Linked DNA regions of Homo sapiens. The protein of the gene in region 2 purifies or fractionates together with the protein of the main gene of each other region. This does not show direct contact. Each region holds a gene or a part of one and is shown on either strand. Other genes may lie near its edges.

Evidence for each region.
Region 1: the proteins of IRAK3 (region 2) and RNF152 purify together in Homo sapiens (affinity purification with western blotting, with the first as the bait; one study listed by BioGRID). This does not show direct contact.
Region 3: the proteins of IRAK3 (region 2) and NQO2 purify together in Homo sapiens (affinity purification with mass spectrometry, with the first as the bait; one large-scale study listed by BioGRID). This does not show direct contact.
Region 4: the proteins of IRAK3 (region 2) and IRAK4 purify together in Homo sapiens (affinity purification with mass spectrometry, with the first as the bait; one large-scale study listed by BioGRID). This does not show direct contact.

Annotation. Positions count from the first base shown.
Region 1 is NC_000018.10:61,816,233-61,823,822, forward strand, and holds part of RNF152 (E3 ubiquitin-protein ligase RNF152), read right to left. Parts: intron 367-7,590; 5' UTR 232-366; coding exon 1-231. UniProt on the Homo sapiens protein: E3 ubiquitin-protein ligase that acts as a negative regulator of mTORC1 signaling by mediating ubiquitination of RagA/RRAGA and RHEB.
Region 2 is NC_000012.12:66,208,264-66,215,853, forward strand, and holds part of IRAK3 (interleukin-1 receptor-associated kinase 3), read left to right. Parts: intron 1-1,192; coding exon 1,193-1,257; intron 1,258-1,883; coding exon 1,884-1,938; intron 1,939-3,182; coding exon 3,183-3,334; intron 3,335-7,590. UniProt on the Homo sapiens protein: Putative inactive protein kinase which regulates signaling downstream of immune receptors including IL1R and Toll-like receptors.
Region 3 is NC_000006.12:3,008,216-3,015,805, reverse strand, and holds part of NQO2 (ribosyldihydronicotinamide dehydrogenase [quinone]), read right to left. Parts: intron 5,782-7,590; coding exon 5,617-5,781; intron 3,263-5,616; coding exon 3,132-3,262; intron 277-3,131; coding exon 163-276; intron 1-162. UniProt on the Homo sapiens protein: The enzyme apparently serves as a quinone reductase in connection with conjugation reactions of hydroquinones involved in detoxification pathways as well as in biosynthetic processes such as the vitamin K-dependent gamma-carboxylation of glutamate residues in prothrombin synthesis.
Region 4 is NC_000012.12:43,774,557-43,782,146, forward strand, and holds part of IRAK4 (interleukin-1 receptor-associated kinase 4), read left to right. Parts: intron 1-3,073; coding exon 3,074-3,188; intron 3,189-3,636; coding exon 3,637-3,746; intron 3,747-7,590.

The DNA.
Region 1 (7,590 bases), on a different chromosome or scaffold from region 2:
AGCCAGGACCTCCGGGTCGTCCGGGAGCTGCGACACGGAGAAGCCGGGAGGCAGCTTGGTGACACCGCGGCACCAGGGGCACCGCACATCCTTCTGGCTGGTCCTCATCTGCTGCAGGCACACTGAACAGCAGGTGTGCTTGCAGTCCAGCAACTTGGGCCTGCGCCGGGGGCTGTAGTAATTGAAACAGATCTGACATTCCAGCAGAGAGTCCTGGGACAGCGTCTCCATGGTGGACCGTGAGCAGGAAGGGCAAGGCCAAGGTGAAGGGGAAGGAGCTGCTTCTCAGAGGCCACCGCCCTGTGTCTTTGCAGTGCAGGTAATGGCAAGCTCACAGGCATCCAGTACTCACAGGTGTGTTCATTTCTGAGAGAGACAAATAATGCAAACAATCTTAATTATTTCAAAGAAGTTGAGATGTCAACATATCTAATGGATTTATACCATTGCTCAAAAGTCTTGACACTGGGCCAAAAGCCTAAAAATTTACCAGTCTTGAGACTACAGGATTCCCATAACGCCCAGTGAAAGGCGAATGAAAGTTGTCTCAGAGAGCATGTCATGGCAAATACTTAGTTCATTTCTAAAAAAATGAACAACTCCAATAGTTGTAGACGATGCATCTGTATTTCATAAAGAGGGCGTCTTTTGTTTCTGTTTTGTACATTTAAGCAAGCTCTGGGTCATCCTTCTAAAATATACTAGAGAAACTTTCCTGCTTCCAATAAGTTCATAGTATTTCCTAGAAGTAAATTTCTCTCCTTAGATCCTCTGACCTTTTTTCCTGACTCTACTTACCCACTTGTAAGTCTTAATTGCAAGATTTAGGCAACTTCACAAACCTAGGTACTTCCTATAACTAACTCGCTCAGTTTACATATATGGGTTAGGATTGTTCCTCTTCACAGAGAAGTAAAGTGACACTGCAGAAGAAGCACACGAAGGCATCTTTCATCTTTCCCAACAAATCATTTGAAGAGAACAAAACAAAAAACCCCAAACAGCAACAAAACCAAAAGCAGCAGTGAAGCTTAAGGCAGTGTGGATCACAAAGGCACACTCATCACAAAGGCATCACTGACATTTTCCAGTCAGTTCTTTTTGTTTCATTACTACTTAGGCTTGTACCAAGTAACACAACTAAAAGCAAGTACGATTGACCCATGAACAACACAGGTTTGAACCACATGGATCCACTTAAGTACGAATTTTTTGAATAGATACGGTCAGCCCTTTCTATGAGTGGGTTCTGCATCTGCGACCAAATGACATCAAAAATACAGCGTTCTCAGGATGCAAAGCCCCTGTATACCGAGGGCCATCTTTTCATATTCTTGGGTTTTATAGCACCAACTGTGGGCCTTGAGTATTCACAGGTTTTGGTATACATGGGGGTCCTGGAACCAATGCCCTCAGATAGAGAGATGACTGAACCATTAATTCACTAATTGAAATCAAATATTCTATAGTTAAAGGTTGACAGGGAAGTCTGGCAAGCATTCCTCATTGTAAAAAAAAAAAAAAAGTGTTAGCATCCTGGTATGGAGGGGAGGCAGAGAAACTTAGTTCAACTTCACTGAAGTTTGGGAATGTCCTCTAACGCTCCACTGGCATTTCAGTAAGGGCTGCCTGACTCAGTTTCCCATTGAAAGCATCCAAATTATGTGTCCCTGGATGGAGCCATGATGACTCTAGAAAGAATTACTCAACCACTATTGCAGAAAAAATTGCTAGTCCTAGAACCCCACCAACACCTAGAGATGGGAGCTATAACACTCCTTCACATTTGTCTTAAAAGTGACCCTTCTTTTTCCTTTCCAATTTCCTTTGTGAAATTAAGAAAGCACTCCCCCATCATGATATATAATGTGTTAACAATCAAAATTAAGAATGCACCAAAAACCAACCTGGCCGGCGTGGGGGCTCACACCTGCAATCCCAGCACTTTGGGAGGCCGAGGAGGGGGAATCGTTTGAGCTCAGGAGTTTGAGACCAGCCTGGGCAACATGGTGAAACCCTATCTCTACAAAAAATACAAAAACTAGCCAGGCATGGTGGCAAGCACCTCTAGTCCCGGCTACTCAGTAGGCTGAGGTGGGAGGACCACCTGAGCCTGGGAGGTTGAGGCTGCAGTGAGCCGTGTTTGCACCACTGCACTCCAGCCTGGATGACAGAATGAGACCCTGTCTCAAATTAAAAAAAAAACAAAAAACAAAAAACAAGAAAAAGCAAACCAGTTCAAAGACAAAAATAACCACTGTTAAAAACTAGTAACAATGAAAAGATCAACATACTTTAAAATACATTAGCTATATTAGAAACACTTAAGTTACTGAAAGTGAAATACAGTAATGTAGCATTCAGGAAGTTCATATCAGGATCAACTACATAGCTATCCACTAATTCAAAAAATATTTATGGAATATCTATTATGCACAAAGCACAAAGCTAAATACTGTAGGATATAAATCAGACCCAGATTCTACCCGAAAACAACTTAAACCTAGGTAAGAAGGAACACACGAATATATTTTTTCTTTCATTCATTTATTCATTCAAATTTTCATTGCATATCTACTATGTGTCAAGCGTGATGTTCCTTTTTGTCCCTTGTAACTAAGATCTTGTCATTGCCCATAAGAAAGTCCTGGCCTAGAGATGGGAGCGCTAAGTACTTAGACAATTGTAACGTAAATACAAGGTACCCTAAGGGAGCCGAAGGAATCAGGGGGAATTTAGTGAAAAATCTGGATTATCGAATTAGACACAAAAAATCAGGGGACAGGCTATTTTCAGGTTATGGAATCAGCATGAGCAAAGGAAAGAAGGTAAGCGATTACAGAATTATTTTCTATTCTACCTGGGACACTGGCTAGAGGATTGTTTCTAATACTAGAGCAACTTACAGAAGTCTTCTCTAAGAGTTTGATCGTTTTAGCCCTTACAGTCTCTGATACAGATGTCTTTTAAAGAAATAAAACTCTCAGAGAACCTGCAAGCACTCTCCCCAGACCCAACCAGGGATAGCAGATCCCACAGGGAGGGGAGAAATGAGCTTAGTCAGGCACAGGCCAGAGACTGTGGACCGTGGGCAGCCCCCAGTGCCAGGCCAAGGATTCAGGAGTTTAGAGTGAGCAATGGGAAAACACCAGAAAGGTTAAGAGTAGCAGAACAATTCATTCAAGGGTAGACTGGAAAGACCTATTGGGAGGCTATTACATTAGGCAAGAGTTAAATGAGTAGCTGAAGTGAATAGTGATGATTAGGACAGAATGATGAGATGTGAGAAGAGGTTCACAGAATTCCAGCAGGATCTTGCAGGGTATTGCAATGAGGTTGTACAGTGAAAGAAGCCAAAAATGAAGCCTTTAGAGGAAGGTAATATCATTATGAGAAATAGGGATCATGAAGAGAAATACAATGAGTTCTGTTCAGGCCATATTCCACTGGAGGTGCTGGGGAAGGTATTTAAGTTATTTAGGAAGATATTAAAGAGTCAAAGAGAAGGTCAGGCACAGTGGCTCACGCCTGTAATCTCAGCACTTTGGGAGGCCAAGGCAGGTGGATCACTTGAGGCCAGGAGTTTGAGACCAGCCTAGTCAACATAACGAGACTCTGTCTCTACTAAAAATAAAAAAATTAGCTGGGTGTGGTGGTGGACACCTGTAATCCCAGCTACTCAGGAGGCTGAGGCAGGATAATCACTTAAACCCGGGAGGCGGAGATTGCAGTGAGGCAACATCGCACCACTGCACTCCAGCCTGAATGACAGAGTGGGACACTATCTCAAAAAAAAAAAAAAAAAAAAAGAATCCGGCCGGGCATGGTGGCTCACGCCTGTAATCCTAGCACTTTGGGAGGCTGAGGCAGGCGGATCACGAGGTCAGGAGATCGAGACCATCCTGGCTAATATGGTGAAACCCCGTCTCTACTAAAAATACAAAAAATTAGCCAGGCATGGTGGCGGACGCCTGTAGTCCCAGCTACTCGGGAGGCTGAGGCAGGAGAATGGTGTGAACCCAGGGGGCGGAGCTTGCAATGAGCAGAGATCGCACCACTGCACTCCAGCCTGGGTGACAGAGAGAGACTCCGTCTCACCAAAAAAAAAAAAAAAAAAAAAAAAAAAAGAGTAGGATAAAATTCTTCTATAATTTTATATCCAAGGTAATACATTTTTTTTTCTTAAAACAAAACAAAATACAGGGTTCGTTGGTGAATCCTGCTCTATCTGTCTCCAGGTGAAAGTGCACAGACAGCAATCAGGTGAGACTATGATTGACTCTACTGAGATGTAGCTGTGCCTGCGGGGAAGGATTGCTCACGTTGAGCTACGGGTGGGTAGGAACAATAAAATTGAGGCAGGGTACAAAATTTTACAGACTCCTGCAATTTTATGAATTTGGAGAGACTTTTCCTTAACAGGAAAACCCTCAATTGCAAATGAGGCTGGGGACAAAAATGTTTCATGACATCATATCAAAACAGTGACCACCGATTTATGTATAAACCTTCTTTCTTTCCATACTATTTACCTTAACTTCTACATCACAATGTGGGAAGTAGCTCAGCAGAGTGGGAAGACTGGAGGTTTGGGACTCAAAGAACCTTGGGCTCAAAGCCTAGCTCTGTCACTAACCAGCTGTGATACCAGGCCAAAGTCATTTACCTTCTCTGAGCCTGCTTTCTCCCTGGCCAAGCAGGGATGATGGAGTTGTGGCTGAAGGTCAAGTGAGCTCATGGGATCCACATACTTCCACACAGTGAAAGGTTCAGAGAGGACAGTGCTTGTTCTCCACTTCCTCTCCACTCAGTCTAGTGCTCTGCACTGAGGCACATATCTGCCCAGAGGCACTTCCTGGCTATCAAAGAGCTGCCACTTGGAACAGCTTGGGAGGAGGCATGCAAGTGTTCTTCCTGGCCCTGCCCCAAGACCTGCGTACCATCATTGGTCAACAAAACCAATATGCAATTTTATTCATGAATTTATGTTCCAAGTAATGTTCCCTTAATTTGTGTTAAGCTCCCTTAAAATTAGATTATCCTATTCCATTTCCAACTCTATCCAAGTAAGTTCTAGGCCTTACAAGCCATTTTGACAGCAGCCTCTCTGATTTATGCACTGATTTGTTCTACATGAAGCCAGCCTGTACTGCATTCCAGTTTATTTTCTGGAGCGTAATTAGTAATGATGATGATTCGTTAGGTAAAGAGAAGGAAATTTATGAGGCTATGGAGTGAAGCTAATGATGGATCATTCTTTCCCCCTTTCATCATGAAGTCTAAAGATGTGCATCAACTATAGAAGAAAGAATGGAAACAAAGTCCATGTAGACCAGAAAAGAAATTCAGAGTTCCCTGTCAAGCGTGTTATAATAAACACATATCAGTGATTACTTTAGAGCAAGGGTCTCCAACCCCCAGGCCACCAACCAGTACCAGTCTACAACCTGTAAGGAACCAGGCTACATAGCAGAAGGTCAGCAGCTGGTGACAGACAATTACCGCCTGAGCTCCACCTCCCGTCAGATCAGCGATGGCATTAGATTCTCATAGGAGCACAAACCCTACTGTGAACTTCACATGCAAGGGATCTAGACTGCACACTCTTTATGAGGATCTAACTAATGCCTGATGATCTGAGGTGGAACAGTTTCATCCTGAAACCATCGGTCCCTACCCATCCGTCCTGTGGAAAAATTGTCTTCCACAAAACCCATCCCTGGTGCCAAAAATGTTGGGGACTGCTGCTTCAGAGACCTGTTTGGCCTTGTTTTCCTTACAGGAAGAGCAAGATGTGATACTCCAATAAAATACTCATTAAGATTTAAAGGGAAAGAGTACTTCAGTAGAATGCATAAGAACAAGTATATAAGAAAATATATGAGAACAATTTTTAAATGTCACCACAATTTATTTGAGAAAAACTTAAAGTCAAGATCAAAGTGAAAAACAGACCACAAAGAGAAGAACAGTGGCTCGGGGAGGGCATTCTTAAAAAATAGATGGCTCCCAAGATAGAACTTATTTCAAACATAACCTCATAAAACAGTACATAGTTACATAAATAATATTAATTGAACAATATATAGATAAACAAAAGGGGTCTTTGTGTTGTTGTTGCTGTTGTTATTTTGAGGCCCTAGATATTTTGTGCTTTTGAAAGTCCTTTACAATAACAATTTACTTTCACAAAATAAAATTTCTTTTTAAAAACTATACATAATTTTATGCATCTTTTGAAAAGGTACAGGTGTGACAAAGTGCGCGCATTCATTTGGTAGGTGGTAAAATAGCAAAGATCTCCAACATTGAATTTTTATAATCCCAGTTGCTTTTAGAAGTCTAGGCATATGAGCCCAAGGATAAAAAAAGCCAGTGAAGTAGATAATCCAGATAGTTTTACTCTGCTTACACTCTTAAGAATCTTCATACATTCTGTGACAGTGGGGTTAATTATGAAGTCTCTCTGTGGAGTTGTGGCCTGAGCTGATATTGATTACATCGGGCTGACCTTGAAGTGTTCCATTTAATAGTCTCTATGAGGACCTTAAATTCAATGGTTGTGTTGAGAAAAAAACTCAAATGCAGAGATTAAACTAGGCACTACATTGCTTTTCTTTTCCTATTGAAATAGCACATCTTTCTGATACAGGCCATCTACTTAAATCTTCAACAAAATATAAATATTTGAAATGGGATTAAACAAAATAATCACAATTCCATTTCATCTGGTATTTCAGCTGGCTTGCCAGCCACTTAGTTATATTGGATCTTAGCAAACACTCCAATTAGTGGCAAGAATGGGAATGCCCGGTGACAGATGTGTCATTGACTTTTTGTCCTCTGGTAGCAAAGAGCAATCCTTCCAGGACACAACTGCTGCATACATGCGTAGTCCAATTGACGTAACTACAGTCATTGTTTTAATGGAGCAGGACTTTGACAAACCTCAACTGAGAATTCCATTGGCTCGAGCTCTAATATTTGCACAGTTTCCTCCTATGAGCATCCTGGTTTGCTGTATTTGATGAAGCAAAGAATCCAGAAAGTGAAAATTGTCGTTTAAACATGTTTTTTGTTTTTTTGAGATGGACTCTCACTCACCCAGGCTGGAATGCAGTGGTGCAATCTTGGCTCACCGCAACCTCCGCTTCTTGGGTCCAGGCTATTCTCCTGCCTCAGCCTCCTGAGTAGCTGGGATTACAGGTGTGCACCACCACACCCAGCTAATTTTTTTTGTATTTTTAGTAGAGATAGGGTTTCGCCATATTGGCCAGGCTGGTCTCGAACTCCTGACTTCAACTGATCTGCCCGTCTCAGCCTCTCAAAGTGCTGGGATCACAGGCGTGAGCCACCACGCCCAGCCTTTTGGTTATTTAAGATGTTTACATATTTAAACAGGGAATAGGGCAGGCGATGCTGACAGTGCTGGAGGCCAACTGGCCCAGGTGGCAGAGGCAGGCAGGATGGGACAGAGAGAATAATACTGGTTGAACCAGACAAAAGCAGCACACCATCCAGAAGGCCAAGGTCACCCCAGGGACTCACCACACAACTGAAGGCCTGGCCCTGCCAGCACAGCCCACTAGG
Region 2 (7,590 bases):
CAGCACTCTACCACATAGAAGTTATAGTCGACATTTGGGGTGGTAAGTATTTGTCATTGATACACACACACACACACACAAACACACACACACGCACACACACCACCTCCAATACTTTATGGCACAAGATGATATAAAAAAATAAACTAACCCAGGAAGATATAATATCATAATTGTAACATTTAAAAATATATGTGCAAAAATGCTGATAATACAGCTGGGCGCTGTGGCTCATGCCTGTAATCCTAGCACTTTGGGAGGCTGAGGCAGACAGATCACTTGAGCTCAGGAGTTTGAGACCAACCTGGCCAACATGGTGAAACCCTGTCTCTACTAAAAATACAAAAATTAGCTGTGCATGGTGGCAGGGGTTTGTAATCCCAGCTACTCAGGAGGTTGAGGCAGGAGAATCACTTGAACCCAGGAGGCGGAGGTTGCAGTGAGCCAAGATTGCACCACTGCACTCCAGCCTGGGTGACAGAGCGAGACTCTGTCTCAAAAAAAAAAGAAAAAAGGCCCAGTGTGGTGGGTGGCTCATGCCTGTAATCCCAGCACTTTGGGAGGCCGAGGCAGGCAGATCTCTTGAGGCCAGGAGTTCGAGACTAGCCTGGCCAACATGGTAAAACCCCATCTCTACTAAAAATACAAAAAAAATTAGCCAGGCATGCTGATAGGTGCCTGTAATCCTGGCTACTTGGGAGGCTGAGGCAGGAGAATCACTTGACATTCTCAAGTGGAGGCAGAGATTGCAATGAGCCGAGATCATGCCACTGTACTACAGCCTGGGCGAGAGTGAGAGTCCATCTCAAAAAAAAAAAAAAAAAGGCTGATAATTTTTTTTAAATTTTCTTCTTTGTGCTTTAATATTTTTAATGTCTAACAACAATTTGTCTTATTACTTGTTTATTATTTAATTATTTAAATTATTTAAAGTTAATAATAGATTAAGGCAACTACTTATGTTTTAAGTGAACAAAAGTATGTTTGTATAACATTTGTTAATTAGAAAGCTATTTCACAAATATAATACTTCACAAATAATACTTTCACAAATTTATCGTAATGTTGCATGGGAATGAAACTTTAGAAATGAACAATGGCTAGCAAGACATTTATTTTCAGAGTCTCAGAAAGGAAAAACATTAGGGACATAAAATTTTTTTGTATCTACCTTCCCATATTTCTCTTTCAGGAGCAGTGTTGAGTCCTTCAGAGAAGAGTTATCAGGAAGGTGGATTTCCAAATATATTATTCAAGGTAGAGTATGTGTGCATAGAAAATGAGCCTTGAACTTTGTTGCATGTATAATTGAGCATAAGGAATGAAATTAGCAGGCAGAAAAATGCTGGATTTGCCGGCACTTTTTAAAAATCAGAAATGCCTTTGTTCTCTCATTATTCTCTATTTAGTTGAGGATTTAGGAAATTAGAGATTTATAAATATTTGAGAAATTAAGAGCTTTCTGTTCTCAGTGATCTGTCAGAGATGAGACTGAGAACTACTAAGGATGCTGTGATTTATACATTTGTCTTAACTCAGCTTTTAATTTTCCTTTTTTGGTTGGTGTTTTGCATGTCACTGTTAGTTTTTATTAGAGCAAACTAGCAGTGATCATTTTTATAGCATTAAAAGTAATTTAAAATTGACTTTGACTGACTATGACATTGAAACTTGAGTTTTTACTGTTGGTGTGAAAGCCTTAAATATGGCAATGAATGCTATTAAATAAAGTGAAATAACTTTGATTTCTGCTAGCTTTCTTTTAAATTAGGTTGCACTCTGTTGCACTGCATAGTCCCCAGGGAGCTTTGGATTTGTGTTGAGGCTCTGTTCTTTCTAGATGTATGAAATGGAATTACTTTAGTATATATTTCTTCTCTTAGGAAACAGCCAATGTCACCGTGGATAATGTTCTTATTCCTGAACATAATGAAAAAGGTATGAAAAAACCAGTTTTTTTCCAACAATTTTTTTAAAATCATACTTTCATTTAAGTGAATTAAGAGGGAGAAATACCCAATAAACACAATAATCATTTATATTCAAATTCGGTATAAAATTTCATAGATATTAAAATAACTTCAATTTGATTGACACTTATAGTTCTAATAGATGATATGTTATTATGTTAAGGCTCCATTGGCTAATGAAGAATGCAATTGTGGTCTCTTCACACGGGGGATATTTTAGTTTTTTGTTGGTAAAATTTGCTATGTTTGTGTGTCATGGGAAAACATTTTTAAAATTATGTTGAGATTTATATAGTTTTAGAAATGCTCACAGCAATTACAGAAATCTTTCAAGATGATTGTAGAGCAATGCTGAAGGTCAGTATGAAAATCTAGTTATCTTCCATATCAACTTTCCTACTTTATTAGTAGGAAGAATAATTTAGTTCCACCTGGAATCATTCTGATAAATGTTAAAGACTATTTAAGGCTGCGTTGCCTAGTCTTTGCCACTAGATCTGATGCTTCTTTCATTGAAAAAAGAATTAGGAAAGTTAGATAAGGCTTTGGTTCTTCAACAATAAGGTCTAAATCAAACATTAAGTGTCTTCAGAGAGGATTTTGTATTAGCTATGGAAATATAGCCAAAGTTGGGTTCTGAAGGACATAGCCAAACTTTTCCTTTTCAATTTGTATTTGATTCCTGTTTGCATGTTTTCTCCCAATCTCCACTTTGGGTGAGTTTTTAAAAGGCTGAATCATCTTTCTAATTCACTCTGAGGAAGTAAATTAGGCAGTTAGAGGATTTGGCACATGAGAAGTGTTTCTATCAGTCATGCTTGGAGAATATTGCTTAGTCATGTCCATATTTCCACTTCCATAATTTTTTAGTAGTTTTAGGTTCATAGTGGGTCAACAGCAACACATTGACCTAATGACCAGAAAATTGAATCTTGGAAGAATTTCTTCCACTAAGCTCTTTGGCTGATCTCTTTTGAGAGGAGGTAAAAATCACAATGCTGCTGTCCGAAGAAACCCTTTGCTCTGTGGAATGGTGGGAACTAGATCCAAGTAAATGTGCAGAGAGCACATGGTGGTCTTCGGCTTTGGTTCCTGGGCCTTTCTCTACTAACCTTCCACTGGACTCTGATTTGTTTCTAATATAGAAATTTTGGTTATAATGGTGATGTTCCTTCTTAGCTAACTTATCTTCCCCCTACTTTCCTTCCTAAGGAATACTGCTTAAATCTTCCATCAGCTTTCAAAATATCATAGAAGGAACTAGAAATTTCCACAAAGACTTCCTAATTGGAGAAGGAGAGATTTTTGAGGTATACAGAGTGGAGATTCAAAACCTAACATATGCTGTCAAATTATTTAAACAGGTATGGAAAGAATTACTGTCACAGGACATCAGTTCCACTTATTTGTTCATCTTTCATATTAAAATATGTCATTTTTCATCAACATTGAAAGGGGTATTTGAAAATAAAATTTTATAAGTGGAAATAAGAGATATGATTTCAGATGACTGGAGAAGTAAAGACCTGTCTTGCAAGAATGAGGAAGTTAAATGCTTTCCATCCCCAGATGTTATAGCATGAAAGACTTTTCTGGGCTGGGTGTGGTGGTTCACGCCTGTAATCCCAGCACTTTGGGAGCCCAAGGTGGGTGGATCACTTGAGGTCAGGAGTTTGAGACCAGCCTGATCAACAGGGTGAAACCCTGTCTCTACTAAAAACACAAGACTTAGCTGGGCGTGGTGGTATGCTCCTGTAGTCCCAGCTACTTGGGAGGCTGAGGCAGGAGAATCGCTTGAGCACAGGAAGAAGAGGCTGCAGTGAGCCAAGATTGCACCACTGCACTCCAGCCTGGGTGATAAAGTGAGACACCACCTCAAAAAAAAAAAAAAAGACTTCTGAAAAGTCTCCAGGACTTTGTTAAAGAGGGTCAGGTAGTGCTAGCCTGCCCTGATTTTCTTGGATTTTTAGGATGAGCCGGGTCCTCTCCAGGCAGCCTCACAGGCTAAGCCACAGTTTGGCATTTGGTACTGCTTTATAAATTGTCTTCTATCACAACTCAGAAGGGTGGAAGGAGGAGGCTTTCGAGTAGGAACAACAAACCAACAAACAGAGTAGGAGGTCAGAAGACAGTTGATTGACTGCAGCCAATGAAGCAAAAAGGGAATTCCAGGATCAAGCTCAGGAGTCAGTCAGAGATAGGTCCACACACAAACACAGAAGAGCTGCTCTTCGTTTTCTTCATAGTTGGTCAACAATAAGTAAACATTTACTAAACTCTTATATGGACTGGGTGCTGAGCATGTAGAGATGAATAAGGCATAGTTCTGTCCTCAAGGAGCTCACAGTCTCTCTGGTGAAATAGCCAGGAAAACAAAAGATTAAACTGTTGTAAAAGAGGTACTTTAGCGAGAATTGTACAAAAGATCACAGAAGCACATAAAAGATAGCAACTCTCACAGCCATAAAAAAGAATGAGTTCATGTCCTTTGTAGGGACATGAATGAAGCTGGAAACCATCATCCTTAGCGAACGAACACAGGAACAGGAAACCAAACACTGCATGTTCTCACTTGTAAGTGGGAGTTGAACAATAAGAACACATGGACACAGAGGGGAGGGGAACATCACACACCCAGGGCCTGTTGGGGGGTTGGGGGAAATGGGAGGAAGAGTATTAGGACAAATACCTAATGCATGCGGGTCTTAAAACCTAGATGATGGGTTGATAGGTGCAGCAAACCACCGTGGCACATGTATACTTATGTAACAAACCTGCATGTTCAGCACATGTATCCAGAGCTTAAAGTAAAATTAAAAAATAAATAAAAAAGAAAAAAAAAGAAAAAGAGGTTTAATGGACTCAGTTTCACATGGCTGGGGAGGCCTCAGTATCATGGCAGAAGATGAAAGGCACGCCTTACGATGCAGACAAGAGAGAAGTTGTGCAGGGAAACTCCCATTTTTAAAACCATCAGATCTTGTGAGACTTATTCACTGTCACAAGAACAGCACTGGAAAGACCCACCCCCATGATTCAATTAACTCCCACTGGGCCCCTCCCACAACACGTGGGAATTGTGGGAGCTACAATTCAAGATGAATTTGGGTGGGGACACAGCAAAACCATATCAGAAGTCTATCTGAAAAGGTTACATACCATATGATTCCAAGTATATGACACTTTGGAAAAGGAGGAACAATTGAGACAGTAAAATATGGTGTCTGGGTGTTTGGTAAGGGTTAGATGAATAGGCAGAGCACAGATGATTTTTAGGGCAGTGAAACTACTCTGATACTGTAATGGTGGATACATATTATCATATATTTGTCAAAACCCATAGAATATACCACACTAAGAGTGAACTCTAGTGTAAACTACGGTAATAATGATATGTCAACTTAAGATCATTGATTTTAACAAATGTACCTCACTGGTGTGAGATGTTAATAATTGGGAAGCTGTGTGCATGTGTGTGGGAACGCCTTACTTTCCTCTCAATTTTTTGTAAATCTAAATCTGCTCTAAAAAATAAAGTCTACTAATTAAAAAAAAAAAAAAAAAAGATAGCGACTCTCTCCTCCCAGAGGAGGGCTGTGTCTGGCACCCAGAAGAGTATCTGGCCAGAGTAACCACTCAGTAAACAGTTCTCAAAAACAAATGGGGAAACCATCCAGCTGGATTTTGAAGGATGAGTAGAATTTTGGCAGGCAGTAAAGGAGGGGAATTACATTCCTGGTGGAACAAATAGCAGTTGCAGAGACCTGGAGGTGTGTGTATGAAAACGTAGGTCTTCCTCATGAATAGCATTTCATTCAGTGCAGCGGACTGGGTGTAGGGAAGATGGTGAGAAGAGGATGCTGGAAAGATATTAAGTCTGTGGGTGATTTTTAAGTAGGAGACTGAAAGATTTGTGTTGTTAAAATATGACTTAGATTCTAGGTTAGATAGTGGATTGGAAGTTGGCAGAAGAATTGGGGGAAAGATGGCAAGAGCTAGCTGGAGGCAGGCTGGGCATGGTGGCTCATGCCTGTAATCCCAGCACTTTGGGAGGCTGAGGTGGGCGGATCACTTGAGGTCAGGAGTTCGAGACCAGACTGGCCAACATGGTGAAACCCTGTCTCTACCAAGAAATACAAAAAAAAAATTAAAAAAAAAATAGCTGGGTGTGGTGGTGCCTGCCTGTAGTTCCAGCTACTCGAGAGGCTGAGGTGAGAGGATTGCTTGAACCCAGGAGGCAGAGGTTGCAGTGAGCCAAGATCACGCCACTGCATTTCAGTGTGGGCAACAGAGTAAGACCCTATCAAAAACAAAACAAAACAAAACAAAACAAAACCACCAGACTGGAGGCAGAAAGACCTGGTAGAGGGATATTTCAGATGTGCAAACCAAGAAATGGACAGGGTATAAACCCGTGTTCCCAACCCTGACTATATATTAGAATTATCTAGGAGCTTTTTAAAAAAATGAGCCTTTAAAAAAATTGACTTTTAAAAAAATGGGCCTTTAAAAAAATGAACTTTTAAAAAAATGGTAGTCACCAGTATTTTTTAAAAGGTCCCAAGGTGGTTCACATGTGTAGCCACTGTTGAGAGTTAATGCTGTTAGCCTGGGCAAAGTCAGTGAGGATGCAGAGGAGAAAGCATGTCTAAGAGACGAGGTGAAGTGGACCACATCTGATTATCTGTTGGATAGGAGTGGGGAAGAAGGAGGGTTTCAAGGTGATTCCGAGTTTGCAGCTTGCATTACCGTACCGTTTTAAAAATTATTTACCTAATTTCTCCATTTCTCCAAATTGCATTTAGTACTACTTAATTGTACATAGAAATCTCAAAATTACTGAGAAGATGAACAGTCTGCTAAAGAAACAACCAGCTGGCCCAACTATTCAACAAATAGAATGTGGTTGCTCTAGAGGTGGCCAAGCTAAAGCCTGTTTCTTAATGCCAATGTGTCCCTGGCCCCAATTCGTACATTGTCTTATGGTTGAGCCTCAGGACCCCATCCCCAAAGGGTCCGTCCAGTCTACTTTCCTACTCTCTCTGCAGCTGCCACCAAATCACACTCCCTTTTGGGAGTTTTCTTTCCATGAGTCTGAATGGTATTGATTGCTTCTAGAACCCCTTCCCTTTCTTTCTTAAAGAAAGGTGTTATTTCCTGGATTGTCTTTGACCCCTCCAGTGTGGTTTGGGTGACACTCCTATGTGTAGCAATAGCATCAAAGCATTACGTTATTCACCCACCTCTCTCAAAGGACTGGGCAGCTTTTTTTGAAGAGCTCTTATTTGTCTTTGTATCCTAGTGCCTTATTACAGGGCCTTGCCCATAGTAGCTCAGTAAATGTTTGCTGGATAAATTGAATGCAGCATACATACCCTTTTCAAGAATTTAGTTGCTAGTTGTTACGAGTAAAAATACCTGAGATTACCAAGGTGTGTACAAAGTCTTACTGTCTCTACATACATTTTAACTTTCTCTTAAGGTGGTAAATGAAAGTATGGCCGGACTTTGCCCTTCTGCTTTTATCTCCGCCCCCTATTTTAACCCAACATGCACACACACACACACACACACACACACACACACACACACACACTTATCAGGAAAAAATGAGAGCATT
Region 3 (7,590 bases), on a different chromosome or scaffold from region 2:
TGTGTCCACCCGTGTGCAGCACATGGTGCTTTGTACATAGTGGGTGCTCAATCGATATTTGCTAAGAAAAGGAAGGAAACTAGAAATATAACTTGATAGAAGACGCATCCTCTGTCCCCTCCCTCCAACTATCCATAGTGATCCTTATCCAAGAGCACATACCTGGAGCAAACCGGAATCGTAGAATCCTGGGATGTCAAAGGCAAAGCCCTGGCACAGCACCCTATCCATCCAGCCCTTCAGGATGGCTGGCACGCTGAACCAGTACAGCGGGAACTGTGGGCGGCAACACCAAAGAGAAACTGAGGCTGCGGCTCGCCTCAGGTTTCCTAGTTTAGTTTATCTGGTGATTCGGAATGAAGCCCACAGCCCTCCTCTTCCCTGGCAGCTGGGCAGGTGAGGGTAACCCTTATGGTCAGCTCTGAAAGGTGCAGTGTGGGTGTCAGACGGGAACGGAGTTGACAATGGTCCTTGTTGCTGTTACAGGTAGCTCTGCATCCCCCAGTGATGACAGCCCCTGATGCTGGCCCTGGGCAGGCAGGGAGGGGACGAGGAGCTGTGCGTAACACCAGCTTTGGAGCAGCAGTCTGTGATCAAGCCAGTCAAAAGGAAGAGTATGGAAAAGCATGCCCCTTCGCCTGCCTGGGGTGTGTTGTTAGCATCTGGAAGTCAGACTGAGTTCGGTGCTGAGCATCTATGGATTTAGACACCAACTAAAGTCATGTTTGTATTCCTTAGACCAGCGCTAAGATCTCCCTATCCCATAGATGCCCTAACATTACATCCAGTGTTACCGCCTGGGAAGGGAAATAAACATAGGCAATCATCTGTTACCAAAGGTGGAAGCCAATGTCTCTTGTGCTTTCCATATAAAACAAACTCAGGACTTGGCATTGAAACCCAAGCTCCACGACCTGCTGCTGTGTGACATTGGCAAGTTACTTGACCTCCCTGTGCCTCCTTTTTCCTGATTCATCAAATAGGGCTACTAATAGTTCACAGCTCACAGCATCCTGGTGAGGATTCGAAGACACACCACAGTGCCCAAAACAGAATCAATGCTCAGTGAGTGGTGGGCTCTGATATTAGTAGTGCAGTAGTGATGAATGAAATTTTTATTAATGTTGAATAAAAGAATAACTTATAATGCAGACCCTCTGGACAAACTATCAGAAAAAAAGGGAAAGTAGGGAAATGGAGTGAAATGAAGTGAAACAAAAGAAAGGCCATTATAGAAAGGCCAGGTCTTAGCCTACCCAGCCACCGGGTTATGGGAGTGGAGTGGGTGCGAGGAGGAAAGCGGGCTCCACGTGGCCGGCCGACCCAAGGGGGACAGGAGAAGCAGAGCAGAGAGCTCAGCGTGGCTCTGCTGGGACCACGCACCCCAGGATACAGGCCCGTCATACTGGCATGGTATTAAGACGGAGATGGTAAACCACATGGTCACCTAGGCCTGAGGACTATGAGTCCACCCACCTGTAATTAGGACAAAGGACGTCCTGCACTTTGGTCAGATTAGCAGCTCAAGGTCACTGAGTAAAGAAAGGGCTGGTGTCGGGAAGGGGTGTGCAGAGGCAAGCCTGGGCAGGGATGAGGCAGCCCTCTTCCCGCACATGCAGGTTGCTTTTATGAAGGCTTGGGAACCTCATCATTCTGGAAAGGTGGTTTTGTCTGGAAAGTGGTCACATGCCGCTCACCCCCTGCCTTGCCCTCACATGGCGGACTCATGCGAACAGTGCTCTCGTTCTCCTGCCCACTCCGCATCCTCAAGCAGGGTTGGAAAACAGAAATGATCTGAACCAATCAGATCCCTTGGTTGGAAATTCTGGATCTAGGGGATCCAGTCCCTGGCAAGCAGTGAGAGAGAACAGAGCCAAGAGGCAGAAAGGAGCAGATGGGAATCTGTGGACGAGAGCAGCTACAGCTCTGTCCTTGGGATCCAGGAGGCCCAAGTGACCAGAGCCCTTATAATAGATTCCCCTTTCCTTCTAGTTGGACAGGAATTTCTGTCACCCAACAATTCCCTCAAAGCTCATGTGCGTACTCTGCTGCCAGGTTTACACAGCCACAGCCATGCCTGCACATCTTCCTTGCAGTGGCGGGAAGTGGCCTGATGAGTCAGCACTCCTGGAGGGCATTTTGCTGGGCCAGTTCACTCTGCAGTGGCATCACCTCCTTGTGAACAAATACAGGAAGGTGGCTGGGCTGGGGGTGAAGCAACCACTGAGAGGGTAGAAACCAGAGATTTTCCTCTTAATGATCAGGATATTTAAGGCAGGATATTTAAGGAGATGCATTTGGCCTGATTTACCCTGATAAACATTTGTGCAGATAAATGTGGTTCTCAAGCAGCCCCAGAATGTCTCAGGGCAGGAACGGGAAGAGAAGGGAAGCAACAAGACTGGCAGGTTTCAGATGATTCTTGGACCACTGGAATAATGGAAATATCCTTCATTCCTATTTACATGGCAGTCGGGATTTGGAGTGAGTGATATTGGCTACGTGGATATCTTTACCCAATTAGGTAAAGTGTTTAAAGTAGTGTTACATCGGCCGGGCGCGGTGGCTCACGCCTGTAATCCCAGCACTTTGGGAGGCCGAGGCGGGTGGATCACGAGGTCAGGAGATCGAGACCATCCTGGCTAACACGGTGAAACCCGGTCTCTACTAAAAATACAAAAAACTAGCCGGGCGTGGTGGCGGGCGCCTGTAGTCCCAGCTACTCGGGAGGCTGAGGCGGGAGAATGGCGTGAACCCGGGAGGCGGAGCTTGCAGTGAGCCGAGATCCCGCCACTGCACTCCAGCCTGGGCGACAGAGCGAGACTCCGTCTCAAAAAAAAAAAAAAAAAAAAAAAAAAAGTAGTGTTACATCTACGTACAGTGTTTAAAGTAGTGTTGTAACTAGATGAAGTGTTGTAACTAGGTGAAGTGTTGTAACTAGGTGAAGTGGTGTAACTAGGTGAAATGTTGTAACTAGGTGTTGTAACCAGGTTACAATATTTGCTCAGTAAGTGTGCAACTGTGCTCAAAACATTGATGCCACTTCCAGAAGCAGCACAAAACTCAATATTCAGAAAGAGTTTGTACATAAGATGAATCTGATTCAATATATTAATTAGAGAAAAACAAACCTGAAATATCACTAGGTCAGCCTCCCGAACCTTTTTCTGCTCATCAGTGATGTCGCTAGCCAGAGACCTTTGCTTGTAGGCTTCGTGGGTTTCCACTCCATAATTGAAAACCTCAGGATTAGAAAGAGTACCTGTCGGGGAAGAGGCCAAACATTCTCACTCCTAGGTGGGCATCCACAGCCCATCCCAACCATCCCAGTAGCACTGTGTATACCGGACTCCTCAGACAAGTCAAAGACATTTGCTGCAACCTGACCAGAAGCTGCACCCTGGGTCCGAGCTAGGGAAAGAGAAGCAGTCTGGGAGGGCTGCTGATTGAGCACTTGCTACCTAGCAGGTGCTGTGCTCTACACACATCACCTTTCTTCATAACAACTGGTGAGACTGGTGTATTTCCCAATTTACCAGAGAGCAAACTGACACCCAAGAGAGGCTGGATGTCTTGTTCAATGCCAAACAGGTCTAAAAAAATAAACTCTACGCTTTAATTTCATGCTCACCTCCACATTTTTGAGTATCTGTGTCTTGATTTACATATTTTATATTGCTTATCTTTGGCTCTTAACAGGTCACGTAGTGATTATTGTTTTTGATAGATTTGTCTGTTAGACTTAATACTAGTAATGAGTGGACTGTACACAATTACAGTATTAGAGTGTTCTGTGTACTTACTTTTACCAGTGGGTTTTACATCTTCAAATGTTTTCTTTTTGCACATTAGTGTTTTTCTTTCTTATTGAATTCCCTTTAGCATTTCTTGTAAGGTGGGTCTGGTGGTGGTGCATTTTCTCAGCTTTTCTTTGTTTGGGAAAGACTCTCTCTCTTTCAGAGTTGAAGGCTAGATTTGCTGGGTACAGTATTCTTGGTTGACAGTTTTGTTCTTTCAGCACTTTGAAAATGTCCCACTACCTCCTGGCCTATATGTTTTCTGTTGAGAAGTCTGTTGCCAGATGAACTGGAGCTCTGTTACATGTTATTTGCTTTTAGGATCCTCTTTTTGTTCTTGACCTTTGAGAGTTTAATAATTATATGCCTTGGGGTAGTCCTATTTGAGTCAAATCTGTTTATTCTATGACCTTCCTCTACCAGGATATTTATCTCTTTCTGAAGTTTTGGAAAATTTTTCTGTTATTATTTCTTTGAATAAGCTTGCTATGCCTTGCTCTTGCTCAGCTTCCTCTTAAGCACCAATCATTCTTAGATTTGGTCTTTTGAGGTAATTTTCTATATTTTGTAAGAAATCTCCATACCTTTTTCTTTTTTCTCCTCTGTGTATTTTCAAATCACCTGCCTTTGAGTTCACTGATTTTTTCTTCTGCTTCATCCATTCTGCTGTTGAGAGCCTCTAATGAATTTTTCAGCAAATGTATTTCTAGTTCCAAGATTTCTGTTTGATTTTTTAAAAATTATTTCAATCTCTTTGTAAAATTTAACTGATAAATTTCTGAACTGCTTTTCTGTGTGATCTTGAGGATTACCACATTTCCTTAAAAGTGCTATTCTGAATTCTTGGTCAGAGAGTCCAAACAGTGCCGTCTCGTTAGGTTCAGTCACTGGTTCCTTGCTTTGTCTGTGTGGAGAGGTCATGGTTCCCTGTTTACTGTTGTTTCTTGTGGATGACATCTATTTATTTCAGTCTTCTATGTCTGACTTGTTTTCATTTTTATTACATATATTTGCTTAGAAAGTCTTTGCAACTTTCTTATTAAATTTTTTTTTTTTCCTCTACTAAGCCACCACCTGCTTTTTGGCACTAGATGGTGGTTTATGCCCACGTTTGCCTCAGCTCTAGTAACCTACTGTTCAGAGTGTGCCAGTCCTGAATATGAGAGGTTCCAAAGGGGATAGCATGGTAGTGTGGGAAGGCTGGCTAGCAGCTCATGCCCAGGAAACCTGCAGAATGTACCTCCTACAGTGTGGTGCTGCTGAACAGCCACTCTGGTTTGGCATCTCCTTTGGCTAAGTTACAGATCAGAGTTTCCAGGGCTGGGGACAATATTCCCATCTCCCTCCTTTGTCTCTGGCTGTTGTCAGGGATATTTCTCCCTTTAGGCACTCCTGATGCTTCCTGTGGGTTGAGGCAGGAACAGGTCTCCTTCCTGCCTGTTTCTGGGAACCCCAGAAAATTGAGAAGCTGATTGTCCCCCTTGATCTCTTTTCCAGTGTAGAACCTGTGACTTGGGAGGAAATTTCCCACACAGCTGGTGCTGGGTAGTTTGTGGGGAGGGGTGTCGTGGATATGATAGTCCAATCTCTTACCGTCTGCTTGGAGTTGTTTCACTTATGTGTGGTCTTGGGAACTATTTCATCTTCATATTTGACTTCTGGGATACTGCTGGTGATAATCCCAGTGCTATCTATTTGTTTTTGGAAAGTGAAGCTAGCTTGCTTCTATAATGCCATTTTGCAGCTGGAAGTCAACATTTTTTAAAGTAAAAAACATAAAGATGGTTTTTATAAATAGAGCATTTATCCCATGACTCACCAGTGATATCTTTGTCTGTGGCCCTCGGCTCAAGGTTCATGGCATACAAATCAGACACTGTGACGGTGCAGCCCTGCCTGCTCAGTTCATCTACAGCCACATTCTTCAAGGATCCGTTGAAAGACTTGGGTTCCTGGTGTGCATAGACAATGAGTACTTTCTTACCTAAATCAGGATAAGAAACAGTTCCTCTTGAAGAACAACCTCTCTCTGTTAAATTCAATGAAGACTAAGATGAAAATTGAATGTTCAGGTGCATCATAGTAATTGAAGCTAAGAAATATCAAATTTTCTTTTCTTTCTGTCTCTTTCTCTCTCTTCTTTTTAGACAGTCTCACTCTGTCACCCAGGCTGGAATGCAGTGGCATGATCTCAGCTCACTGCAACCTCTGCCTCCCAGGTTCAAGTGATTCTCATGCCTCAGTCTCCTGACTAGCTGGGACTACAGGTGTGTTTCGTGGGAAGTCAGGGACCCCGAATGGAGCAACTGGCTGAGGCCATGGCAGAAGAATATAAATTGTGAAGATTTCGTGGACATTTATTAGTTCCCCAAATTAATACTTTTGTAATTTCTTATGCCTGTCTTTACTGCAATCTCTGAACGTAAATTGTGAAGATTTCATGGACAGTTATCACTTCCCCAATCAATACCCATGTGATTTCCTATGCTTGTCTTTACTTTAATCTCTTAATCCCATCATCTTCATAAGCTGAGGAGGATGTATATTGCCTCAGGACCCTGTGATGATTGTGTTAACTGCACAAATTGTTTGCAGAGCATGTGTGTTTGAACAATATGAAATCTGGGCACCTTGAAAAAAGAACAGGATAACAGCAATGTTCAGGGAACAAGAGAGATAACCTTAAACTCTCACTGCCGGTGAGCCAGGCGGAACAGAGACATATTTCTCTTCTTTCAAAAGCAAATGGGAGAAATATCGCTGAATTCTTTTTCTCAGCAAGGAACATCCCTGAGAAAGAGAATGCGTCCCTGAGGGTGGGCCTCTGAAATGGCCGCTTCGGGGCGGCAGCTGTCTTTTATGGTCCAGCTGTAGGGATGAAATAAGCCCCAGTCTCCCGTAGCGCTCCCAGGCTTATTAAGACAAGGAAATTCCTGCCTAATAAATTTTGGTCAGATCGGTTGTCTGCTCTCAAACCCTGGCTCCTGATAAGATGTTCTCAATGACAATGGTGCCCAAAACTTCATTAGCAATTTTAATTTCGCCCCGTCCCGTGGTCCTGTGATCTCGCCCTGCCTCCATTTGCTTTGTGATATTCTATTACCTTGTGAAGCATGTGATCTCTGTGACCCACACTCTATTTGTACACTCCCTCCCCTTTGGAAAATCACTAATAAAAACTTGCTGGTTTTACGGCTTGGGGGCATCACGGAACCTGCCGACATGTGATGTCTCCCCTGGACACCCAGCTTTAAAATTTCTCTCTTTTGTACTCTGTCCGTTTATTTCTCAGACCGGCCGACACTTAGGAAATATAGAAAAGAACCTACGTGAAATATTGGGGGTGAATTTCGCCCAATATCTGGCTGAATTTCCCCCGATAGATGTGTGCCACTACGCCCAGCTAATTTTTTGTATTTTTAGTACAGATGGGATTTTGCCATGTTGGCCAGGCTGGTCTTGAACTCCTGGCCTCAAGTGATCCACCCGCCTTGGCCTCCCAAAGTGCTGGGATTACAGGCATGAGCCACCGCACTTGGCCAGAAACACCAAACTTTCTTTTCTTTCCTTTTTTCTTTTTCTTTTTTTTTTTTTTTGAAACAGAGTTTCGCTCTTGTTGCCCAGGCTGGAGCAACGATCCCAGCTCACTGCAACCTCTGCCTCCCGGGTTCAAGCAATTCTCCTACCTCAGCCTCCTGAGTAGCTGGGATTACAGGCATGCGCCACCACGCCCGGATAATTTTTTGTATTTTTAGTTAAGACCGGGTTTCTCCATGTTGGTCAAGCTGGTCTC
Region 4 (7,590 bases), about 22 Mb from region 2:
AAGTCACAACAAAGTTACGTGAAATTTCACTATCATGTCCTTCATTATCATGTTTTCCACTTCCAGAATTCATGAGAGATCAATTGTAGAGATACTTAAAAACAACTATCTATAGAGTAATAGGCCCTTATATATAAAGTAGCATCTATAGAGCAACTAGAGTCATGTTATCTGTAAGGATGCTTAGAAGGCATTGATCCTGTGTGCTGGAAAATTGTTGGACATCATCAGGAAAAGTAGGAGGGACAAAGTAGGAAATGTATTCTAATTATTATAGTGATTAATAGTGATTGATATTTGAGTGTGTGCAACATGCCAGACATTGTGCTATGTACTTTATGTGCATTGTCTGTCTAACCCTTACAACTGTTACAACTGCCCATTTTGTTTGTTAACTGAGATTTAGAAACATTAAATAGCTTGTCCAAGATCACATAGCCAGTAAGTGTTAGAGATGGGATTGAAATCCAGATCTGTTTGATTGCGGAGCCTGAACTTTAGATCTGAATCGTAATGGGATTTACCAAATTATACCCATTAAACCCACTGCTGTAAATCACCAATCATAGTTACCTAACCTCAAGTAAGAAGAATAGACTAGAATTGATTTATGCACGGTAAAAATGATACATGCTGAAAAAAGATCAAACTTTTTTTTTCAGGATTTGTCTTCTTCACTCCTACCCCTACTCTCCAATTCTAAAAGTAACTTGTTCACAGTAGGTCATCTGGAAAATACAGGAAAACATTTTTAAAATATACAAGCCTATATGCATGCAGGACTTAATACGTAGGTGATGGGTTGATAGGTGCAGCAAACCACTATGGTACACGTTTACCTGTATGACAAACCTGCACATTCTGTACATGTATCCCGGAACTTAATAATACAAACCATCTCTCAAATATATCACTCAGAGATAACCACTGCTAATATTTTTATATACTTGCTTCATGATGTGTGTGTAGCATTTTCCCATGTCACTAAAAATAATTTGAAAACATTTTAAATTATTGTACAACAGTCTAGCATATGTGAAAATCATATTTTATTTAACCATAGCTAGGTTTGTTTCTAATTTTCAGTATTAAAAATAAAGCTTCTTTAAAGTTCTTTGCACATAAATCTTTAAATGCAGTTATACTTACTTTATCATCTAGGGTAAAGTCCTAGAAAAAGAATTACTAGGTAGGAATGCATGAACTTTTTAAAGACTTTCTAAATACACATTCAAATGGCTTTTGAGATAAGTTACTACCAGCAATGTATTACAATTTCAAACTTTACTGGTTCCTTACCTTCATTTAATATCATTACTTTTTTTTTTTTTTTTTTTTTTTTTGAGACGGAATCTCGCTCTGTTGCCCAGGCTGGAATGCAGTGGTGCGATCTTGGCTCACTGCAAGCTCCGCCTCCCAGGTTCACGCCATTCTCCCGCCTCAGCCTCCAGAGTAGCTGGGACTACAGGCGACCGTCACCATGCCCGGCTAATTTTGTTTTTGTATTTTTAGTAGAGACGGGGTTTCACCACGTTAGCCAGGATGGTTTAGATCTGACGTCGTGATCTGCCTGCCTCGGCTGGGAATACAGGCGTGAGTCACTGCGCCCGGCCTATTATTACAATTTTTTAATAAGTGCCAGTCTCTGGATCTTACTAGCAGAATGAACTTGGCCAAGTTTTTTAACTTTCTATTCGTTAATTTTCTCATCTATAAAATGGGACAATAGTACTTACTTAAGTTATTGTGAGGATTAAATAAAACAGATAAATCACTTGCCACACTGCCTCGTTTATAGTATAAATTCAGCAAACGTTAACTACTCATGTTTAAAATGTGCCAGTTTGGTGGAAAATGGGACACTTACTGTTTTAATTTGCACTTCTTCAAATATTTATGAGACTAGAAGAAATTGATATAATGAACTGCTAGAATTGTGGATCATTTTGAATGAACAAAATGAATAAGCACTTAAATAATAAAACACTTATCATGTGCCAGATACGTTTCTAGGCTGTCATGTTTACATTTGCTCATTTAATTGTCTCAGCATCCATATTACATACTGTTTTCTGCATTTAGCAGATAAAGGAGCTGAGGCTCAGTAAGGCTGTTAACTTGCGGTAGGTCACATATCCAGGAGGGGGCAGAACTAGACTTTAAATTTAGGATGTATAACTCTGAGCCCTGTTTTCTTTCGTCTTACCACAGATGCTGCCACTTTATTAGATTGTAGGTCTCTTTAGTTTTATTACTCTCAAGTATATAAAGACACTCAAATTAGGTTATAAATAATCCAGTGTGATTAAAGATCAAAAACATGTAAATTAGATGTGATTCAAGATCATGTCTGTAAATCAGTGCTTTGAGTGTGTTAGAAAATTCTTGACAGTATTAGCATAAAAATTCAACGGACTTCTTGAAATCTTATTTGTGCCATCATTGAAAATTGGGCTAAAGAAAGTGAGCATCAGCCTAGTCCTTAACCAAACTTATCACAAGTTCCAAAAATCTGAATTATTTAGCTTTTACTGTAAAATAGAAAGAGGTTTGGCCAGCTGTAGTGGCTCACACCTGTAATCCCAATACTTTGGGAGGCCAAAGTGGTAGGAGCACTTGAGGCCAGCAGTTTGAGACCAGTCTGGGAAACACAGTGAGACCTCATCTTTACAAAAAAATTTAAAAAGTAGCTGAGTGTGGTGTACACCAGTAGTCCAAGCTACTTGGGAGGATGAGTTAGGAGGATCACTTGAGTCCAGATGGTCGAGGCCGCAGTGAGCTATGATTACACCACTGCACTCCAGCCTGGGCAACAGAGTTAGACCCTGTCTCAAAAAAAAGAAAAAGAGGTTTTACTTCTAATGTTGATTAATACTGGCTGAAAAGAGAAGTATTTGCAGAAAATTATAAACAGTTACAATAAACATATATAAACATAAACATCAAGTTAGAAATAATATATAACATACTATTTTTTTGCTCTTTTTTTCTATTAAAACTTTGAATAACTTCCAACCTATAGCTGAATATATATTTATTATAATAATTTTGCATGAAAAATTATTTGTCACAGGTGTCAACATGAAAACTTAGTAGAACTACTTGGTTTCTCAAGTGATGGAGATGACCTCTGCTTAGTATATGTTTACATGCCTAATGGTTCATTGCTAGACAGACTCTCTTGCTTGGTAAGCTATTTGTTCATCAGATTGTTTGGCTTTTTGTTTATATGCTGGAATATTAATATTCATTTTGTTACTGGATTATTTAAACCAAATTCACTTTCATATTTTTCCTGCTCTATGAAAATTATACAGTTGATATGTCAACAAATTATACAGTTGATATGTCAACAACTGGGTTGCCATTTTATTAGGTGGTAATCTTAAATGTAGAATTCAGTTAAGACTATACTAGGAAGATGCTTTTATATATTTTTATCTTCAAATAACAAATGTAAACACCCATTTGAGCTTATTTAGATATTATTTTTAATAACTTAAAAATGTAGTCCTAAATTATTAATGCTATAACATCATCTTCAGTTGTTGCCTAGAAAAATATTCTGTGTTATATATTCTCTGTAGATTTTTTATTATTCTTTCTCATTTTTAATTTGGTTTATTTCTTTATAAGGATGGTACTCCACCACTTTCTTGGCACATGAGATGCAAGATTGCTCAGGGTGCAGCTAATGGCATCAATTTTCTACATGAAAATCATCATATTCATAGAGATATTAAAAGGTAAATGCTACTGTTTAAAAGTTTTTGGAAAGCTGTCTTTAAAGAATAATTTGCTGTCACTCTATTCACGATTCATATGCAGGTCTTAACCTAGAGCATCTGGACTTTTTTCCCATCACTCCATGAAAGCTCTTCTCAATAAGGACATCTATAATCTCCTTTATTCCAAGCCCAGTGACCTACTTCCAGTACTCATCCTACTTGACCTTTTTTGTTTGTTTTAATAGTAGTTTATTCTGTTCTTCTTGACACTTTTGCCTTATGGAAATTAGTTGTTTTCTTAGTTTATGGATCACTATTCTTTTCTGAATCACCTTCATCCTCCATGAGTACTTTTCAGTTCTCTTTCTTTCTTGTGTATTTATCTAGTTAAATATTTACCTACTATAAGTAACATATTCATATATAGAGCTCAACATCAATCAAATAAGCACAAAATAATTATAGAATGTTAATATGTACAGTTCACATATATATTATATGTATTATTATTATATAGTATAGTACATAGGATTAATATAAAGAAGGGTTTCCAAGAAAGTGACATTTAAGCAGAGATTCAAAGAATGGGCAGGAAATAAGTAGACACAATTTGAGGGTAACTGTAGAATGGATGATGGGGAGAAGAACATTCTAGGCAGAAGGAACTGCATTTGTAAGACCAGTGGTGAGACAGAATATGGGAGCATGATGAGTTACAAGAAATGAAATATGCTTTGGGAGCCAAGATAGGAGGATCATTTGAGGCCAGGAGTAGCAGACCTGACTATGTTCCCTGAACAACATAGCAAGACCTCATCTCTACAAAAAAACTAGTCAAACGTGGTATTGCATGCCTACAGTTCCAGACACTAGGGCAGCTGAGGAGGGAGGAGGCTTGAGCCCAGGAGTTCAAGGTTGAAGTGAGCTATGATCGTGCCAGTGCTCCCCAGCCTGGGTAATAAAGTAAGACTCTGTCTAAAAAAAAATGAAGTAAATGCAGTATGACTGAGATGCAGAAAGTTATAGGGTGGTGGATTGGAGATAAAACTACAGAGAAGTGTAGGAAGCTAAGTCCTATAGGACTTAATAGATCAAGGTAAGGCTTTTAGTTTTATCACAAGTGTAATGAGATGCCGTTGAAAATTTTAAGTAGGAATATGGCATCATATTTAAGTTTTGCAAAGATGATTTTAACTCTAGTGTAGAGAACAGTTTGTAAGAAGAGGCAGTTAGTAGGCTATCATAGGTGGCAGTTCATAAGAAGAGAGGGGAGCAGATTAGAAAGATTAAAATGGCAAAACTTGTTGATACCTTGGCTATGCAGGGGTTCAGGAAGAGCGAAGTATCAGGAATGACTCCTGGAATAATGGCATCCAGACTTGCATTCTGGAATGATTATGGCATGATTCACTTATGTAGAAAGGACTGAAAAAAGACTTGGTTAGGTTGGGGTTAGAGAGATGGTTAGAAAATGTGAATTCTCTTTTGTACATGTTGTGTTTGGGGTGCTTTTAAGATGTAGTAGTAGAGATGGTAGACAGTGTGATATACAGATTTGGAGCTGGAGGTCTGAGCTGAAGATATAAATGTGTATTACTTGCATACAGGTGATAATTGAAGTGACTGTATTCACTTGAGGGGAGATGTAGATTAAGAAAAGGTCACAAGATTAAGTCTTGGGGAACCCTAAGACTTAATGGCCAAATAGAAGAGATGATCACAAAAAGGAATCTAAGGAAGTACACATACAGAGAAGGGTAAGATGAAAACCTGGAGAGTGTGGAGTCCCTGAAAACGAGGAAAGAAAGTGTTTCCCAAGAGGGAGTAGTCAAAAAGAGTCAAGGGCTTTAATCATTGGATTAGCATCACCATGGTCTTTGGTGACTTTATGGAAACCCATTTCCAGGTAGTAGTTGGTTTAGAAATCACATTGTAGTTGAGAGAGTGAGAGCTAGAGAACTGAGATAGGAGTATAGACAAGTCTTTTAAGACATTTTACTAGTGAAGGGGACAGCTAGAAATAGATAAGTCATTCAGGAAACTTTTTTTAAGCTGGCAGAGATTAAGCTGTGCTTATGTGCCTATAGGAAGGATCCAGATTAAAAGGGAGAGGATAGTATGGAAGAGAGAAATGAGATGATGTGTTCAGTAGGGTTACTGAGAATGTAGAAAGCAGCTCAAGCAGAGGAACTGACCCTAGATGAGAAAAGAAACGCCATCTCCTATCCTTCATGGATTGGTACTTTCTTGTGTTCTTATATCATTGTCTCTTTTCTCCCTGTATGTTCTTTTTTTTTTTTTTTTTGAGACAAGTTTCACTCTTGTTGCCCAGGCTGGAGTGCGATGGCGCGGTCTTGGCTCACTGCAACCGTCGCCTCCCGGGTTCAAGAGATTCTCGAGCCTCAGCCTCCTGAGTAGCTTGGATTACAGGCATCCACCACCACGCTCTGCTAATTTTGTATTTTTAGTAGAGATGGGGTTTCTCCATGTTGATCAGGTTGGTCTTGAACTCCCGACCTCAGGTGATCCGCCCGCCTTGGCCTCCCAAAGTGCTGGGATTACAGGCATTAGCCACCCGCCTGGCCTCTCTCTGTATGTTTTTGCTGAGTGATATTATGTTAATTTTAACTGCTACTTATATGTGAGTGTCTTTTGAATCTGTATTATTAGCTTCCAATCCTGGATTTTTAGTATCCCCGTACCAAAAACACTTCATCTGGGTATCCCACAGTAGCCTTTAAGTCAGAACATTAGAAATCAAACTCATCAGCTCTTCCCAACCTAAAGTCTTCCCACATTTCCTTTCTGATCCAGTGAAGTCACTGTTCATTCTGTCTCTCAAACTGAACACGTTCTCATTCTCTATATCATGCTAATTACAAAATTCTGTTGTGTGAGCCTCAAAATTTTCACTTTCCATTTATCCCATGTTATGACCATTTAAACCCTCATTATCTCCCATTTGCTTTGTTACAAACCTTCGTAGTCAACCTAAATCCAGCCTATCAGTTCTCATCTATTCACTACCACACTACTAGGTCATGGTCCTAAAAGTTAAGTCTAATAACATCAGTTTCCTACTGTGAAAACTTTAGCTGGTATCCTGTTGCTCACAGGATAAAATGCAAATTATCTCCATGTTTCTTGGACACTCGTTCCTTGAAGTTGACCATGTATACCATATCATGTTTTTGTCACTTTGTACCTGTTACTCCATTTGCCTGGAGTGCCTTTCTTTCCCTCATATAACTATTAACTTCTAATAATCCTTCAATACTAAGCACACTTTTCACCCTCTGTTTGAAATTTTTCCTACTTTTTCCAGGCACATGGTTGTTCTCTCAGCATTTTGTACCTAATATTACCATTGTTTTAAAAAATTATTTATGCCTTTGTCACAGACAAGATTTTAAGACTCCGCCATGCCCAGCAGTGAGCTTAAATACTACACAACATAGGGAGTTCTCAATAAGATTGTGTTGAATTAAAGTATGAAAGCACATAATGAATTAATTGAGATATTTTGGCCATATTTTTTTCTCTTCAAAAGCCAGATAGTACAGAACAAAAGAATAAAGAAATTCATAATTGAGATACTTTGGTTGGAAATTTGTTTTGAAATGAATTGATACATACTAAGAAAGGAATTAATAAAGGTGCCTTGGAAGACTTTGTAGTAATTTACCCTATAATAAATGATTTGTGGAATAATGAAAATATCTCTTACTAATGTAGACAGTTTTATTTCATTTTTATTCTCCTAAATGTTTTCCTCAAGAAACATAAAAAAAGAGGACAGTTGCTTCTCTTTAGCTATAATCTGAATTCTAGGTTTATTTCTATAAACTTTAGGCTTTTATGA